Regions from separate parts of the Homo sapiens genome. Here region 1 is linked to region 2. The links come from fine-mapping of genetic effects on gene expression. Tissue or cell type: whole blood. Region 2 holds a variant in brackets; the other region holds the start of a gene. All regions are shown on one strand. Distances are from middle to middle.

What was found. PIP is the estimated chance that this variant, and not a neighbour inherited with it, causes the effect.
Region 1: RNF130 starts here. The variant in region 2 is fine-mapped to the expression of RNF130 in whole blood (INTERVAL, PIP above 0.99).

The regions. Positions count from the first base shown.
Region 1 is chr5:180,067,191-180,075,304 of GRCh38, reverse strand. It overlaps RNF130 (ring finger protein 130), which reads left to right and starts at 3,546. Exons shown (of 9, transcript NM_018434.6): 1 at 3,546-3,849. The coding sequence starts at 3,603. RefSeq lists a silencer at 3,196-3,275 and an enhancer at 3,165-3,872.
Region 2 is chr5:180,002,795-180,010,794 of GRCh38, reverse strand. All of the region lies in intron 3 of RNF130 (ring finger protein 130), which reads left to right. Among named protein-coding and RNA genes, the nearest start is that of MIR340, 8.6 kb to the left of the region's middle. RefSeq lists an enhancer at 2,744-3,245. The variant G/A (reference allele first, on the strand shown) is at 3,563.

The DNA.
Region 1 (8,114 bases), 64 kb before region 2:
TCCGTGAGACCTGCCATGTCCGATAAAACCACTCGTACTTTTATTTAACCAATACTTTTAATTCACTTTTTTCTTAAATGTTTTAAAAGATAGCATCGTGTAAAGATATACACATGGCCAATAAGCACATGAAAAGATGTTCAGCACCACTAATCATTAGGGAAATGCAAATCAAAACCATAATGAGAGACCACCTAATACCCATTTAGATGGCTACTATTTTGAAAAAGAAGTAGAGAAGTGTTGGCAAGGATGAGAAGAAACTGGAACCCTTGTGCAGTTGGTGGGAATGTAAAATGGGGCAGCTACTATTAAAAAAACAGTAGGGCAGTTCCTGAAAAAAATTAAGCATAGAATTACCATTAGATCTGGTAATTCCACTTCTGAGTATATACACAAAAGAATTGAAAGCAGGAAGGGATATTTATACGCCCAATGTTCATAGCATCATTATTCACAATAGCCAAACAGTAGAGGCAACCAAGTGTCCTATGATGAATGGATAAACAAAGTGTATTATATACATACAGTGGAATGGATGAATGGCTAAAAAAAAACTTGGAATATACATACAATGTGATATGATTCAGCCTTAGCAAAGGAGGAAATCTGATACGTACTTCAACAGAGGTGAACCTCAAGGACATCGTGCAAAGCAAGATAAGCTACTCACAAAAGGACAAATACTATATGATTCCACTTATGCGGGTAAGTAGAATCATCAAAATCATAGAGACAGAAAAGAAGAATGGTAGTTGGGGAAGGGGGAACGTTTAATGGGTGCAGAGTTTCAGTTTTACAAGATGGAAAGAGTTCTGGAGATGGATGGCAAAGGTTACACAACGATGTGAATGTACTTAATGCCACTGATCCATATGCTTAAAAATGGTTAAGATGGACAATTTTATGTTATGTGTATTTTACCATAATATTTTAAAAGGTAGCGTTGTATCACTATTATAAATGAAAAACTTCTTGTCTCCCTAAGGTCTCCTTAAAACCTTGAGGTTTCCTTAAAAGACAATGCCACTCCCAAGTACAGGCTGGTGTGAATGTTGCCGTACATGCTGGTGCGTGATGAGGCTGTGCACCGAGACCTCATCTTGCTTTATTTAAAGGGGAGATCAGCAAGTGCCAGGGAAGTGTTAAAGGTGCTCTGGAACCAATTTTCTCCTTGACAAATTCAGAAGGGTTGAGAAAGCCACTTCCTCCCCACCTGATTAACAAAGTGGTGCTTGTGAGCTTCTATAATTGTTTCTTGTGCCAGGGGTCATGGGCACCTTACAGTTTGAAGACTCCTCCTTTATAAGGACAAAGGAGTAGAGGCCATGAGCCTCTTGGGCAGGGGTAGGCCAGGGCATGCCCAGCAAGAAGAGCAGGAGACCGTCACCGGGAAGAGCCCTACACAGGCCCTAGATGTGGCCCTGGGCTGTGGGGAGAAGGAATTTCTGGGTCTTAGGTGCTAGAGCATGGGTACCTTGGTGCTAAGGACTCCTTGCCCTATGAAGGGTCCAGCTGGAGGGGACCAGATTAGAGCACTCTTTAGGTGCCAGGCCCAGGGCGAGGACCCCGCTGCTTTGGCCTAGGGTCTGTACTTGCCGAGGATAAGTAAATAAGTAAAAGCCGTTCTCCATAGGCCAGGGCACGGTTTATAAGGACTATGGTAGAGGATGGAAGAGAGGGAAATGGAGGGAGAAATTGTAAAGGATGTCTGCCAAGTCATCAATAGTGGACATCTGTTTTCTTTCTTTTTTCTTTTTCTGAGACGGAGTCTTGCTCTGTCGCCCAGGCTGGAGTGCAGTGGCTCGATCTCTGCTCACTGCAACCTCCGCTTCCCGGGTTCCAACGATTCTCCTGCCTCAGCCTCCCGAGTAGCTGGGACTACAGGCACGCATCACCACGACTAATTTTTTTATTTTTAGTAGAGACGGGGTTTCACCATGTTGGCCAAGCTGGTCTCGAACTCCTGACCTCGTGATCCGCCCACCTAGGCCTCCCAAAGTGCTGCGATTACGGGCGTGAGCCACCGCGCCTGGCCAGTGGTGGGCATCTTAAGTTTTAGCCTGCACTGCATCCGTACCCTTTCCTGGAAACAGTGCCTCAAATTTCTTTTTGGGGAGCCACCTCTTTTCCGGATTTTCAGAACATTTGGTTGTGCAAAGCTGACTCCACCCACTTCCCGCAGTAGGAGACAGGAGACTCAACCCTGGCTGGTCAGAAGACGCCAAACTTTCCCCCTCCGCCTCCCCACAAAGATCCTGTAAGTTCCTGAATTCGGCTGCACTGCCCCATTCTTCCTTTTAGCTGATACTTTATAGCGATGTGTATCTTTTAAACGCCATGGAGAGAGAAAATGAGAGTCGTGTGTGTGTGCGCGCGCGCGCGTTTCGGAAGGTGGAGGGGGGGTTCCCACTGCAACCCTCTGGTCCGGGGGCCCCTGGAGTAGTTCACCTAGTCACTAGAGCAGGGGCTCCCCAACCGCCCGGCCGCGGACCTGTACCGGCCCAGGGCCTTCGAGGAACCAGTAAGCGAGCAGGAGGTGAGTGAGCATCACCGCCTGAGCTCCGCCTCCTGTCAGATCAGGGCGGCATTAGACTCTCATAGCAACGTGAACCCGGCTGTGAACTGCGCATGCTTGGGACCTAGGTTGCCCACTTCTTACGAGAATCTAACGCCTGATGATCTGAGGTGGAGCAGCCTCATCCGGAAACCACTTCAACTCCCTCAGTCCCTGGAAAAACTCTCTTCCTGGAAACCCGTCCCCCAGTGCCAAAATGGTTAGGGACGGCTACCCTAGAGGTCTTTCCCAACCACTCGTGTCCCTGCAGGTCCGGGCCAGAGACATCCCCCATCCATGATGTCAACCGCATGACGTGAATGTTAAATCTCATGACATTTAATTTTAAACATTTCTTTTAAAGTTATGGCTTTTTTTCCTTTGTAGTCTGTTCTCACACATTTCCATACGTCCTCGCAAATCTCCCGGGCTCCACGCCCTGCGGCTATCACGCCTGACAGAGAAACAACCAGCACCAGCGGCTGACCCGGCTGCCCGGGCCCTCGTGCAGGCGGGCGGGAGCGGACAGGCCCTGGCACGCATGCGCTCGGGGCGGGACTGCGCCTTAGGCCTGCGCGTTGCCGCTAGACCAGCGGGGGGGCGGGGCGGCGGCGGACACGCGCCTCAGGCGGCAGCCGCGCGAGAGGGACTTTGTGTTCCGCTGACCCTCCTCGGGGCGCTTCCTCCCGTGCCGCCCTTCCCCTCCCCCGCCGCGTCCTTGCGAGGCGCCTCCCATTCGGTGGGACCGACCCGGGGGGATGGAGGGGGCACGCTTCTACAACCCTCCTGGGACCCCGAAGAGACGCCCGCGTGCGACCTGAGACGCCGCCCTCGCCGAGGGCCCATGGGCGCGTCCCCACAGGCGGGCAGTGGACGTGAGGGCGGCGAGCGGCGGGGCCGCGGCGTCCAGGAGGGCCGCGCTCGGGCTCGGCCCCGCGCAGGCCGCGCGCGCGCGCTCCCGCCGCCGCCCGGGCCGCGCCCGCCCCGCCTCTAGGCGCCGGCCCCGGAGCCCGGTCCGCGAGCAGCGGCGGCTGCCGGAGGGACGATGAGCTGCGCGGGGCGGGCGGGCCCTGCCCGGCTCGCCGCGCTCGCCCTGCTGACCTGCAGCCTGTGGCCGGCACGGGCAGACAACGCGAGCCAGGAGTACTACACGGCGCTCATCAACGTGACGGTGCAGGAGCCCGGCCGCGGCGCCCCGCTCACGTTTCGCATCGACCGCGGGCGCTACGGGCTTGACTCCCCCAAGGCCGAGGTCCGCGGCCAGGTGCTGGCGCCGCTGCCCCTCCACGGAGGTGAGTGCCGGCCCGGGGGCGGCGGGCGGTGGTCGCTGCATCCCGCGTAGGCGGCGGGACTAGGGTTCCCGGCCCCGGCTCTGGCCCTGGCTCTCCCGCGCTGCCCGGCCGACAGCCCCAGCCAGGGTCGAGGCTTCCGTCGTGGACAGCCCGGCCTGCTCCCGTGGGAACCAGGCTCCAGGAGCGTGACTGGGTTTTTCCCTTCTTTTAAAAAAGACTTGGAACGGTCATCTTTGCGTTCAGGCAGCTCGTTTGCTGGAGGGCATTGAGCTAGGAGTTTGCAGGGACAGCGTAGACAAAGGAGGTGGTGCAAGAGCGCAAAACTACTTCATGGGGAGGACGTCTCAGCCTGTATTTTGGAAGCGGCAGGTTCCTCAAATCACGGACTTAAGGCTGCGCTAGATCTGGAAGGATGCGGCCCTTTTCTAATATAAAAACGTGCCGTTTTTCTTAAGTGGTAAATTGGGGGGGGGGTGTAAATGGAAAATGGACATCTTCCCTGTTGCTTTTGGCTCTTGTTCTTGCCCTAGTAGTTTTACTGTAATTTGACGCCTGAAAATGTCACATTATGAGGATCTGACACTAATCGGAACTACTAGCCAAGGCTTTTCAGGTCACGGGTGCCGACCAAAAGGGAAATAGGTAAAATTTTCAAGAATTGTCTTTGAAACCATTCGGCTTAATGTCATGTTTTCCTATGAACAAGGACTTTGTTTAGTTGATTATTTGGTGTAAACATGTATTTGTTTAAATTATTAGTCATGGTTTGAAAGAAACCTTTTGCACATCGTGGAATATGATTTTTTGGGTTTTGGCCCACGCTGAACTTTTGGGAGATATCTGCCATTATCCCCACCCTCATTGTCACCCTGAGAATGCTGAGAGGGGATTTTTCTTTTCTAAACTGCTGTTCATGTTAGGATGACCTAAAGTAGGCAACCTAAATAAAGTCATGATTTGCTTGTACACTCTTAAGATACTAACATATTATGCCCCTCTGAGGTCTGTATTTGTATGCCAAAGTGCTAAGCTGTTTTCTTCTTTGAGACAGTCTGGCTGGGGAAAAATAATCACATAAGGCTTTTACTGTAGCCTGTCCGCAACTCAGACTAGGCTTTGAAAAGTCCGTTTTACACCAGTAATCAGGTGCTTAAGGTGCATATCTCATCTCTACTGTGTTAAAAATGGCAGTTAGGGTCCCAGCTTGGCCGTAGAAACAACTTTTGTCTTGGGTTCATTCAGTAAATATTTGCGTTCCTGCTCTGTGCCAGTCACTGTGGTTGAGATGCACAGTGTTGCCAGACTGGCAACTAACAATGGTAGCCTCTTTTCTGGTGGAGAGAACCGTGAGGGTCACGTGGAAGGGTAGAAAGAGGAAGGGGAGGCAAGCTGTTGTGGAGCAAGAGCTGGTCCTCTGCAGTGTTGTGAAATCTGTGGTTTGTCTTTGAGGCTTGGTTCCATCAGGCACCCCAAATCCATGGTCTGAACTTCAGATCCTTCCTCCACGGTGTTCGTGTGCTTCAGCTACTTGTTGCTTGCCTGTCACCCCAAACAAAAGCCCCGTCTTTGAGAAAGCTTGTTTTAGGTGTTTCTGTAGAAGGGTATTGGAAACTAACTCATGTGTATTGAGGTATGGATGAAGATTAGTCCTGTTCCCCTCTCAGTGGGGAGGCAGCATTGTAGGATTAAAGGTTCTGAGTCAGGCCTGTGCTTTACGTCCATTGTGTGACACTGTAAAAGTAACTCTGCCATTTAGCCTGTTTGCTCATCTGTAAAATGGAATGATGAAATGTACATCTCTTAAGGTTGTTGACAGGTTTAAACGGTTCCTTAATTCTGAAAAGAGGAGATTTGTTAACCTAGAGGAATCTCTCAGTTGGTGAGATTTCAGACACTGCAACAAAATGAACACATTTGGGCAGTGTGTGAAGACTGGGTGTGAAGTCAGTCCCCTTGAGTTTTAGCCTCCCTTTCCTTGATTCCCTAGGGGTCATTCTGTGTCCGTCCCACAGGGGCTTGCTCCAGGTTTTCTCGGGGTGGGGGTGAGGGTGGGGGATCCTACAGGTGGTTTAAGTCTGGCTTTGTACCAAGGGTCTTCACACATACGCAGTTTTTCAGTCCAGCAAATATTAATTGAAATCCTGTGTGCCCAGTCTCAGTCAAGGCATTGGTGAAGGAGAGGCAACAGCAGTGAACAAAACAGATTTAAAAAAATCCGTCTCTATGAAGCATAGCTTCTGCTGGGATCTTTGTAAGTTAGCCTACCTGTCAGTAGTTTCTAAACCTATGGGTTTATATGAAATCTAAATCTTCTGCTGTTGCAGTAGGAACTTAGGAATTTATTTTAGAAACAGAAATGGTGATATAAATCTGTTAAAATTATTCGTGTTAAGAAAATGATTTAAAATTGGAATACTTGGGTATTTTACATTATAATCTTGATTTAATGAGTTTAACAATTTTTTAGTTTTAGAAAAAATAGTGCATCTTTATGACCTTGATGCTCTTATAATTTTGAATTGAGGAGAATTCTTGACATGTTTATTGAGGACTTACTGCACGTTGACACTAAGCAAAGTAATGCTCAGATTACACACAAAGTTATCAGACAGGTCCTGGTGGAAAAACAGCTGTGGCCAATACGTGAAATTCATGAAAATTTGTTTTGAGGGTGTTTGATAGAAATGAACATAAAGACAAAAGAACTTTATAGTTTTCCTAGAGTTGAACCTGATGGCTCATTTTGAAGCTGTGGATTGATTTATGAAACTAGAAACCTTCCTGTTCGCTTTGCAGTGCTACTATCAGTTTGGCACGTGTGAATTTCTGAATAACATTTATTTGTCCTATCCCTTTAAAGAGCAAATAGTCAATTTTTTTCTTAGGCACTTTGGTATTTTAAAAGTATATTTTGGCAAGTGCTATACTTTACGTAGTATACTTTATGAGATATCTTATAAACAAGTGTACTTTAAAAATATGTCTTTGTCATTAAGTCGAATGCATTGGTGGGTGTAGAATCATTTGCCTGGGGCTAACACATTTTATATTTTAACTGGTAAAGAATTCGTGTTTAGAAACGGAGTTTTGAAGGAACATGTCTTGTATTTATGCACAGATCACGGTTGCTTTCTTATTACTTACTCAAATGGTGAGCTTAGAACTAGGAGCAAAATATTTAGTACCTTTGCGGAGCAGCCTAGCTAGGGTCTGCTGTGGAGCAGACATTGTAAATGTGCTTTATGTGTGTGCACACTAACTTTTTGTTTGGCCCCAGAGTGGGGGTTGGGAGAGGAGAAAGCCCTGTGTTGATGATGTGATTATGTATGCAGATGTGCTGGTGGGGAAGAGTTTAGTATCGGCCACTTCTTGCTTTGCATAGAAATTTTCAGGATTGGATGTTACAGCCTTAGAGAATAATTTTACCAAATAATAAATCTTGTTTTGCTAACTTGCTTAGGGATACAATAAAACTCAAAAAAGTGAATCTTAGGTTTTCATGTTTAAAAATGTAATCCTATTAGACGAAGCCTTTAATGGTTCCTTTAATGAATCTGAAATCGGTTTTTAGAAATTCTCATGAACAGTGGAGGAGATTGATGCGAAAACAGGATTTGGGTGAAAGGGGTCATGTAATGTTTGAATTCATAACAGCAAAGGCAGGGGCTATTGGACACAGATTTCAAAATATTCAGAGAAAAAGGATATATGATCATGGGAGCAGGGTCTCTGAACATTCAGAAAGAGCTGGAGGCTCTAAAAATCAAATTTTAACATAAATAGGCTGGCAAGAGAAAAGGGGATGTATATAATAAATTATATTTATGTTGAACTTTACAGCTTATGACATGTTTTTACATACCGTGTTTTTCCTTCACATTTGAATGATGATTTCCATTAGCCTATAAATATTTGAATTTTTTTAAAAACCACTTGATCTCTCCACCAAATCCCTGTCCTGCTACCACCCCATTTCTCTCTTACAGCGAACCTCTAAACGTTATCTACATTTACTGCCTCTGATTTTTCCTCCTGCTGCTCTTCTCTTTGTGAAGGTCTTCTATTGCCGTGCCAGTGATTTTGATGAAGACGTGGCATATGTAACATATATTTGATAGCAGGGTCAGAATTGCAAAGATCTTAATGTGTACAATGATGGGCTATATAGCTTTAAAAAAATTAATAGGAATGAAGACATAGATTTGGGTTAAAAAAAAATCACCTTCATGGAGGGGAGCAGAAGGGAGCTAAGGCTTAGCTACCTG
Region 2 (8,000 bases):
ATCACAAGGAACCCTTGTGCTACTCTTTTATAACCACAGCCACCTCCCTCCTTCCCCCTTCCCTAATCTACCAGGAATCTGTTTCTCATCTCTATAGTTTTGTCATTTCAAGAATGTTAAATAGGTGGAATCATGGGCCAGGCACGGTGGCTCACACCTGTAATCCCGGCACTTTGGGAAGCCAAGGCAGGTGGATCACTTGAGGTCAGGAGTTCAAGACCAGCCTGGCCAACATGGCAAACCCCATCTCCACTAAAAATACAAAAATGTAGCTGGGCAAGGTGCCATGCGCCTGTAGTCCCATCCATTCAGGAGGCTGAAGCACGAGAATTGCTTGAACTTGGGAGGCAGAGGCTGCAGTGAGCCATGATCGTACCACTGCACTCCAGCCTGGGTGACAGAGTGAGACTCTGTTTCAAAAAAATAAAGAAAAAAATGTTATATAGGTGGAATCATATAGTATGTAACCTCTAGAGTTTGGAATTCTTCACTTCCTCACTCAGCATAATTACCTTGAGATACTTTTTTTTTTTTTTTTTTTTTTTTTTTTGAGATGTAGTCTCACTGTCGCCGAGGCTGGAGTGCAGCGGCTGGATCTCAGCTTACTGCAAGCTCCGCCTCCCAGGTTCACGCCATTCTCCTGCCTCAGCCTCCGGAGTAGCTGGGACTACAGGTGCCTGCCACCGTGCCTGGCTAATTTTTTGTATTTTTAGTAGAGATGGGGTTTCACCGTGTTAGCCAGGATGGTCTCGATCTCCTGACCTTGTGATCCGCCCACCTCAGCCTCCCAAAGTGCTGGGATTACAGGCGTGAGCCACTGCGCCCGGCCAAGATACTTTCAAGTTGTTATGTGTATCAGTCATTTATTCCTTTTTATGGCCGAACTATATCCCATGGTTTGGATGTACCACCGTTTGTTTAATTGCTCGCTCATTGAAGGATATCTGGGATGTTTTCAGATTTTGGCTATTACAAATAAAGCAGCTGTGAACAATCACATACAGGTTTTGGTGTAAACATGAGTTTTCGTTTCCCTGGGATAAATGTGTAATTTCTGAGTTCAGTGTAAATTCCAAGAGTGAAGTTTTTGGGCTGTTAAGATAAGTGCATATTTAGTTCTGTAGGAAACTGTTAGACTCATTTTGCAAAGTGGCCATACCATTTTGCATTCCTGCTAGAAATGTATGACTGATCCAGTTCCTCCACACTCTCGACAGCACTTGGTGTTTTCATCTCTTGTGATTGTTGAGTTGTGTAGTAACATCTCTTGTGGTTTTAGTTTGCATTTCTCTAATTAGACATTTTTTATGTGCTTGTTTGCCATCCGTATATCCTCTTCAGTGAAATATCCATTCATGTCTTTTGCCCATTTTCTACCTAGATTGTTTTTCACTGTTGAATTTTGAGAGCTTTTTATGTATTCCAGATACAAGTCCTTCGTCAAATATGTGGCTTGCAGAGATTATCTCCCAGTCTGTATTTTGTTTTGTTCAACCTCTTAACAAGGTCTTTGAAAAGCAAAAATTTCTAATTTTTATGGTTTATTAATTTTTTCTTTTATGAATTGTGCTTTTGGTGTCAAGTCTAAAAATTCTTTACTTATCCCTAGATATCCCAAAGATTTTCTACTATTTTTCCTGGAAGTTTTATATTATGTTTTACATTTAAGTCTGTGATTAGTTTATTTGAAGGCTTTCCTGTTTTCTAATGTAAGAATTAAGTGCTATAAATTTCTCTCTCAGCACTTCTTTAAGGCTATGCCTCACATATTTTGATATGCTGTATTTTCATTTTCATTCAGTCCTATGTATTTTTTTCTTTTGAGACTTCTTCTTTTACCCATACATTACTGAGAAGTATGTTATTGAATTTCCAGTAGTTTAGATATTTTACTTTTTTTTTTTTCCTTTTGAGAGAGGGTCTTACTCTGTCACCCAGGCTGGAGTGCAGTGATACGATCTCAGCTCACTGCAACCTCCACCTCCCGGGTTCAAGTGATTCTCTGACCTCTGCCTCCCGAGTAGCTGCGATTACAGGCGCATGCCACCGTGTCCGGCTAACTTGTATTTTTTGGTAGAGATGAGGTTTCACTGTGTTGCCCAGGCTGGTCTTGAACTCCTGACCTCAAGCGATCTGTGCACCTCAGCCTCCCAAAGTGCTGGGATTACAGACATGAGCCACTGTGTCCTGCCAAGATTTTACTATTATCTTAGTGTTACTGATTTCTGGTTTGATTCCATTATGCTCAGAGAAATACTCTATGATTTCAGTTCTCTTCTGTTTCTTGAAGTTTGTTTTATGATGTAGGATGTAGTTTGTCTTAGTCAGTGTTTCATTGGTGCTTAGAAAAAATATTCTGCTGTTGGGTGGCATGTTCTCTGGGTGTTAATTAGACCAGTGGGCACAGCTTTTCTTCCTGAGGAGCCGGGCTGGGAGAGCCTATTCCCACTGGGCTCTGTGAGACCAGGGTGGGAGGAGGATTGTGATTTTGCCCTTGGCGCCTGGCTGGAGTAGAATGAATATTACTGCAAGTGTTTTCTGATGTTAGGCCATCCTTCTCTTGGTACTTTGGCTAGCGGAGTTGGGCTTTTCTCGGCTTTTTCTGGGGTCGGGTGGTGGGCTGCTCTGGTCCTGTTGGCTGTTCCAGGTTGGAGGCTTCTGCAGCACATTGTCAGGAATCTATGGGGGAAGTAAGGAAGCTTGGAAGCCACCACCCGTTTCTCATGTCTTGAGGGCCCCAGGCAGCCCACCTCCTTTTCCCTCCTATAACATGTAATATACCTGTTAAAAAAAAAAAAAAAAAAAACTAAAAGATTTGTTTTTAAAATATGTTGACATACGAAACACTGAAAGTAAAATGAGAAGGAGCTGCTCTGGAGTGGTGTTGTTGACAGGCAAGCCTGTGTTAGTGGACTGGGTGTAGCTCACCCTGAGGACGTTGGAACAAAGGCTCACGGTTGTCCCAGGAGCCTGCTATTGGAAGATAGTGCTTTAATTAGCACCCAGTGTGGGGCCGGGGCTGATGAAGGAGGAAACATAATCACCATCTGGTGCAGGCCACAAACTGCGAGCTTGTTTCCTAGCATTTATTTTGCGGCTGACTGCATGCAGGATCCTTCCAAAGCGTCTCTCCAGATGCTACTGTGGTGGAAAGTGATGTTCTGACCTTTTTTCCTCCTTCCGTTTTCCCCAAGGTTGACAAATGCTTGATGAAATTTTTATGTGGCTTAAAAAGCTTAGCTTATTAAAGTTTAATAAGAAGGTGGCAGCAGCTAGACTGGTTGAAACCTTTGGCTATTTTAAAAGAGAAGCCATAATATTAGCAAAGGAAAACCAGTGAGTTTAAGGACAGACTCTGATTTTCTCTCACAAACTGTTTTTGTTTTTGTTTTTTGAGACTGGGTCTCACTCTGTCACCCAGGCTGGAGTGCAGTGGCGCGATCTTGGCTCACTGCAACCTCTGCCTCCTCGGCTTAAGCAATTCTCCTGCCTCAGCCTCACACGTAGCTGGGACTAAAGATGTGTGTCACCATGCCTGGCTAATTTTTGTATTTTTAGTAGA[G/A]ATGGGATTTCACCATGTTGGCCAGGCTGGTCTCAAACTCCTTACCTCATGTGATCCTCCTGCCTCAGCCTCCCAAAGTGCTGGAATGACAGGCATGAACCTCCACACCTGGCCCCCACAAACTGTTATCATGAAGCAGTTCTTCCTGTAGAACATGCTACCAAAGAGATCCATATATTGTAAATAACTTTCTAAGCATAGTAAAATGCTCACAATTGAGAACATTTTGCATGTGATATAAGAATCTAATGCTTTGGCTTTTCAGTTCATGACTAAGTGTCTGTGGTTTGCTCTTCCTGGAAAACTGTCAGAATGTATCTAATTACTATCTATAGGTGTAGATAGTTCAAACTACCACTGATGGTAAACTTAAATGTCGCTGTCAAATTAAGTCACTGATAGTTATTTTACACAAAACGGTAGATGTTTGTTACCTTTATTTTGAATAAATGCTTAAGGATTTTCTGAAAAATGTAAAATGTTTAACAGTTACATGGTTAATATTGCACCTTTAATTTCAAAGTGGTCAAATTTAATTTCTAAAGCAGAACAATGAAATTTTCATTTTACTGTTTAGGAACGGGGCAGATGTAAAATATTCTGCCACTTAATGGACTCCTGAATATTTAGAATGTATTCTTAAAACTTCCCAGTGAAAATGCATGTGCTTTTTAAGGTATTTAAAATTTGTAAAAGCTTCTTGCCATAACATGTGTATATAATATTCTTTGACTTTATAAGTATCTCAGGGTTGCTGAAATGAAATACACTCTTATTGCCCATTTTCATCATGAAAGGTCAGTAGCTAATTGGAGAATGCATTTGCCTGTCAGAATGTGGAAATATATGGAACATTCCTGTGTCAGAGAAAGGTTAAAACTTTGCATGAGTACAGTTAATCTTTGAAAACTGGTGGGTTCAAAAGGTTTTTTTTTTTCTTCCACATTGGAAGAGAGGAAGTATTGTATATACTGCCAAGATTTGTCCTACAGAAAAGGATTATATGGCCCCAAAACAGACTTCTTTTGTCATTTTAGATGGCAGAGTGAATTTTGTTCATTATGTTTCTTAAGGATTAACAATTCCAGAAGAACTGGAAAGGGGAAATAGATGTTTGAGCTGAGAAGTTATTATCTTACCAGTTTTAAAAAAATACTGCAAATACTCTGATACCTTGTTTTTCATGTCCTGCCATTTTGTAAATAAATAACACTTTTCATATACAGAGACTGTATTATATACCTTCTAAATATTACATGTCAGGGGCTTAAGATCTGATTTTTTTAAAGCACAAAATATGCTCTTAAGATCATAGTGTTTGCAAGATAATTCATTTCTATATCCTTGGGGTTTAGCATGGGGCCTGGCACATCACACTGCCTCAGTAAATATTTCAATGAATTCAAGAATGAGCTTACCTTCTGTTGCAATGACAGATGCAGTCAAAATACTGTGTGGTATAGGAGTTATTCTTTGGGGGCAGAGTGATATTACTCTCAGGGAGTCAAGGACACTTCACAGAGAAGGTAGGTTGTGACCTTGGAGCTGAATTTTAAAGGATGAATTAAGACTTCATCAGATGGAGATGAAGGAGAGTCAGGCAAATGGATCATTTTCCACAGAGAGATGAAAGAGTTGAATGACTGAAACATCAGGAATAGTGGGCAGGAGACTTGTGAGTGTTGAGCTGATATTAGATGAATAAATTGTCACTAGACTATGAAGGGCATGAATCACATAAGAAAGTTAGGCTTTATTCTATAATCAATATGGTTTCTGTTGGTGTTGTTGTTGTTGTTTTTCTGAGACAGAGGCTTGTTCTGTCGCCCAGGCTGGAGTACAGTGGCTCGATTAACAGCTCACTGCAAGCTCCGCCTCCCAGGTTCAGACCATTCTCCTGCCTCAGCCTCCTGAGTAGCTGGAATTACAGGTGCCCACCACCAGGCCCGACTAATTTTTGTATTTTTAGTAGAGACGGGGTTTCGCCATGTTGGCCAGGCTGGTTTCAAACTCCTGACCATAGGTGATCCACCCGCCTCGGCCTCCCAAAGTGCTGGGATTACAGGCACGAGCCACCACGCCGGGCCATCAGTACGGTTTTTTAGCAGTGGAGTGATATACAATTCTTTTCTGGTGCGAGAGACTTAGGGAGAAGGAGCTATGAAAAGAGGAAATATTGAAGAGCAAAGGAAGATGATATTAATAAAATAAGGTTATGTAGAGAGGAGAGGAGTGATCTGGGCACAGGCAGATGGTGTCTTGCAAAAGAGTTAACAGAGGCTTCTTTTGAGAAAAAAAAATGGGAAAAAATGGTGGTGAATGAATGAAGGAGGGTGCAGACTACAAGGCACTTTGCATTGGGGAAAGATTTTATACCTAGATTTCACCAGTGTTTACAAAAAGAAAACCCTACTCTGTGCAGATACAGACTTACTCTAATTCTGTGAGAGAGTTCTGATTGCCGAATGGCAAAACCTGAGATGAATTTCATCAAAGTGACCTATCCTCAATATACTCTGAACCATTTGGCTTTGAACCAACTATTCCTATTAGATTAAGCCGTAAGAATTGTTTTAACTTGTTTTCTGCCAATTCAAACATTTTGTCACTTTGCTTTCAAATATAGAATGGTGTTTATTGTTGCAGCTTTGACCAGATGAGATAAGATAATCTGGCCCCTAACAAACCCCTCAAGCTGTATGCTATAGAAAGTCTTTTCAGCATTTTATAGTGGAGGAAGAACTGAAGTGGAAAGGAGATCTATGGTCCTAGTCCGAATACTTTTAGTAACTTCAGACAGATCTCCTCATCTCTTTCTGGGGCTTGGTTTTTCTCCTTTGTAAAATGATGCCTTTCTGTGGTTTTGTCATTTCTAACATTCTGTGTGTGATGAGGTGTAAATTTGAGGAGTTTTATTATTAAAGGAATAGGGCACAGTGTGAAGTACGGAGAATATCAGTGAGTGGGTAGCGTATTACGGGAAAATGCTTTGAAACCAGGGTTTGTACTTCATTTAGTGAGTCTCAAACTTTAGTATACAAAAGAATCATGTGAGAGCTCCTTTTAGGGGCTGGAGCACTTTTTAAAATTGCAAATTTCCAAGATCGTTCCTCCCCTTAATTCAGCAAGTCTGGATAGGGCCTACTTACTAGCCTTTGATGTGGGCAAATTATTTAATCTCTGCCTCAATCTCCTCTTCTGTAAAATGGGATATTATAGTTCTTTTCTCATAAAATGATTGTGACGATAACACGAGTCAGTACTTGTGAAGGGCTTAGAACAGTACCTAGCACATGGTATGTACCGAATAAACCTTAGTTAGTATAGATTTTATTATTATATATTACTAAGCATTCAAGGTAGATTTAATGCATCTGCCCCATGGACCACACCTTGAAAAACAGTGACTTAATGGCATGGTGTTTAGGTGAAGGTAAGAGACTTTAATAAAAAGTGATCTTCATGGAAGAATTTTGTACCTCATCGTAGGTACTTGAGAGTTAGCCGGATGCAAATAGACTTAGAATGAAAAATTTTAAAAAAATAGTGGCTTTTAGACAGATTCCAGGAAGAGATCAAATTGTACACACATACATAGACACTTATACCTGTCACAGGTTTACCTGTCGCAAAGTGATGGGAAATGTTAAAGGACTGATTAAAAACTCAAAGGATAATTCAGAAGAAGGTAGTAATACTGAAGCCAAGTCCAAAGAAAAATTACAGTGAAGGTATTGACATTAATACCTAACACAGAGAAGAGATATTTTGTCCTTGTGCTATAAGAGGTGTTCAAAGTTCAGAGGTGGAAAATATGATCTACCTAAATATTTGTAGGTCTCTGATTAGATAACCTACATGCATTCACGTCAGCTTGCTGAAGACTGGACTGCTTCCACCAGCACCTGCTCTCTGCTTTTGGCTATTCCATAATGCAGTGTGATGGCAGGCGCTCTCACACGGCTCATCACCGAGCCAGAAGTCTGGGGGCACCTCTCCTCAAACCCCCCTCTTCGTGCCTCCATGTCAGTCATGAGGTTCTGTCGGTTTTACCTGCTAAATCTTTCTTGACTTTGCGCTCTTCTTTCTTTACCTACTGCTGCTTGCCTAATTCAGGCCCTTCTTGTCTCTGAAATATTAGAGACCCTACCTGGACATCCTGTGGAGGCAAGATTTTAATTCTCCAAGCCTCAAATAGCATCAGGAACTTTTCTGTTCAGAACTCTTTGGTAGAATTCTGATCTGAACAGAATGGAAGCAATGAGATTCTTGTAAAATCTCCTCAAATTCCTTAATAATAATAATAATAACAACCCAGATCTGAGTTACCTTAGGAAAATGACCCATTAGAAATCCTTAGAACTTGTCCTCCTTGCAAAAAAAGCCTGAACAATAAATAAACAACTTAATGAAAATAACAGAGGGAGAGTACAGGGGT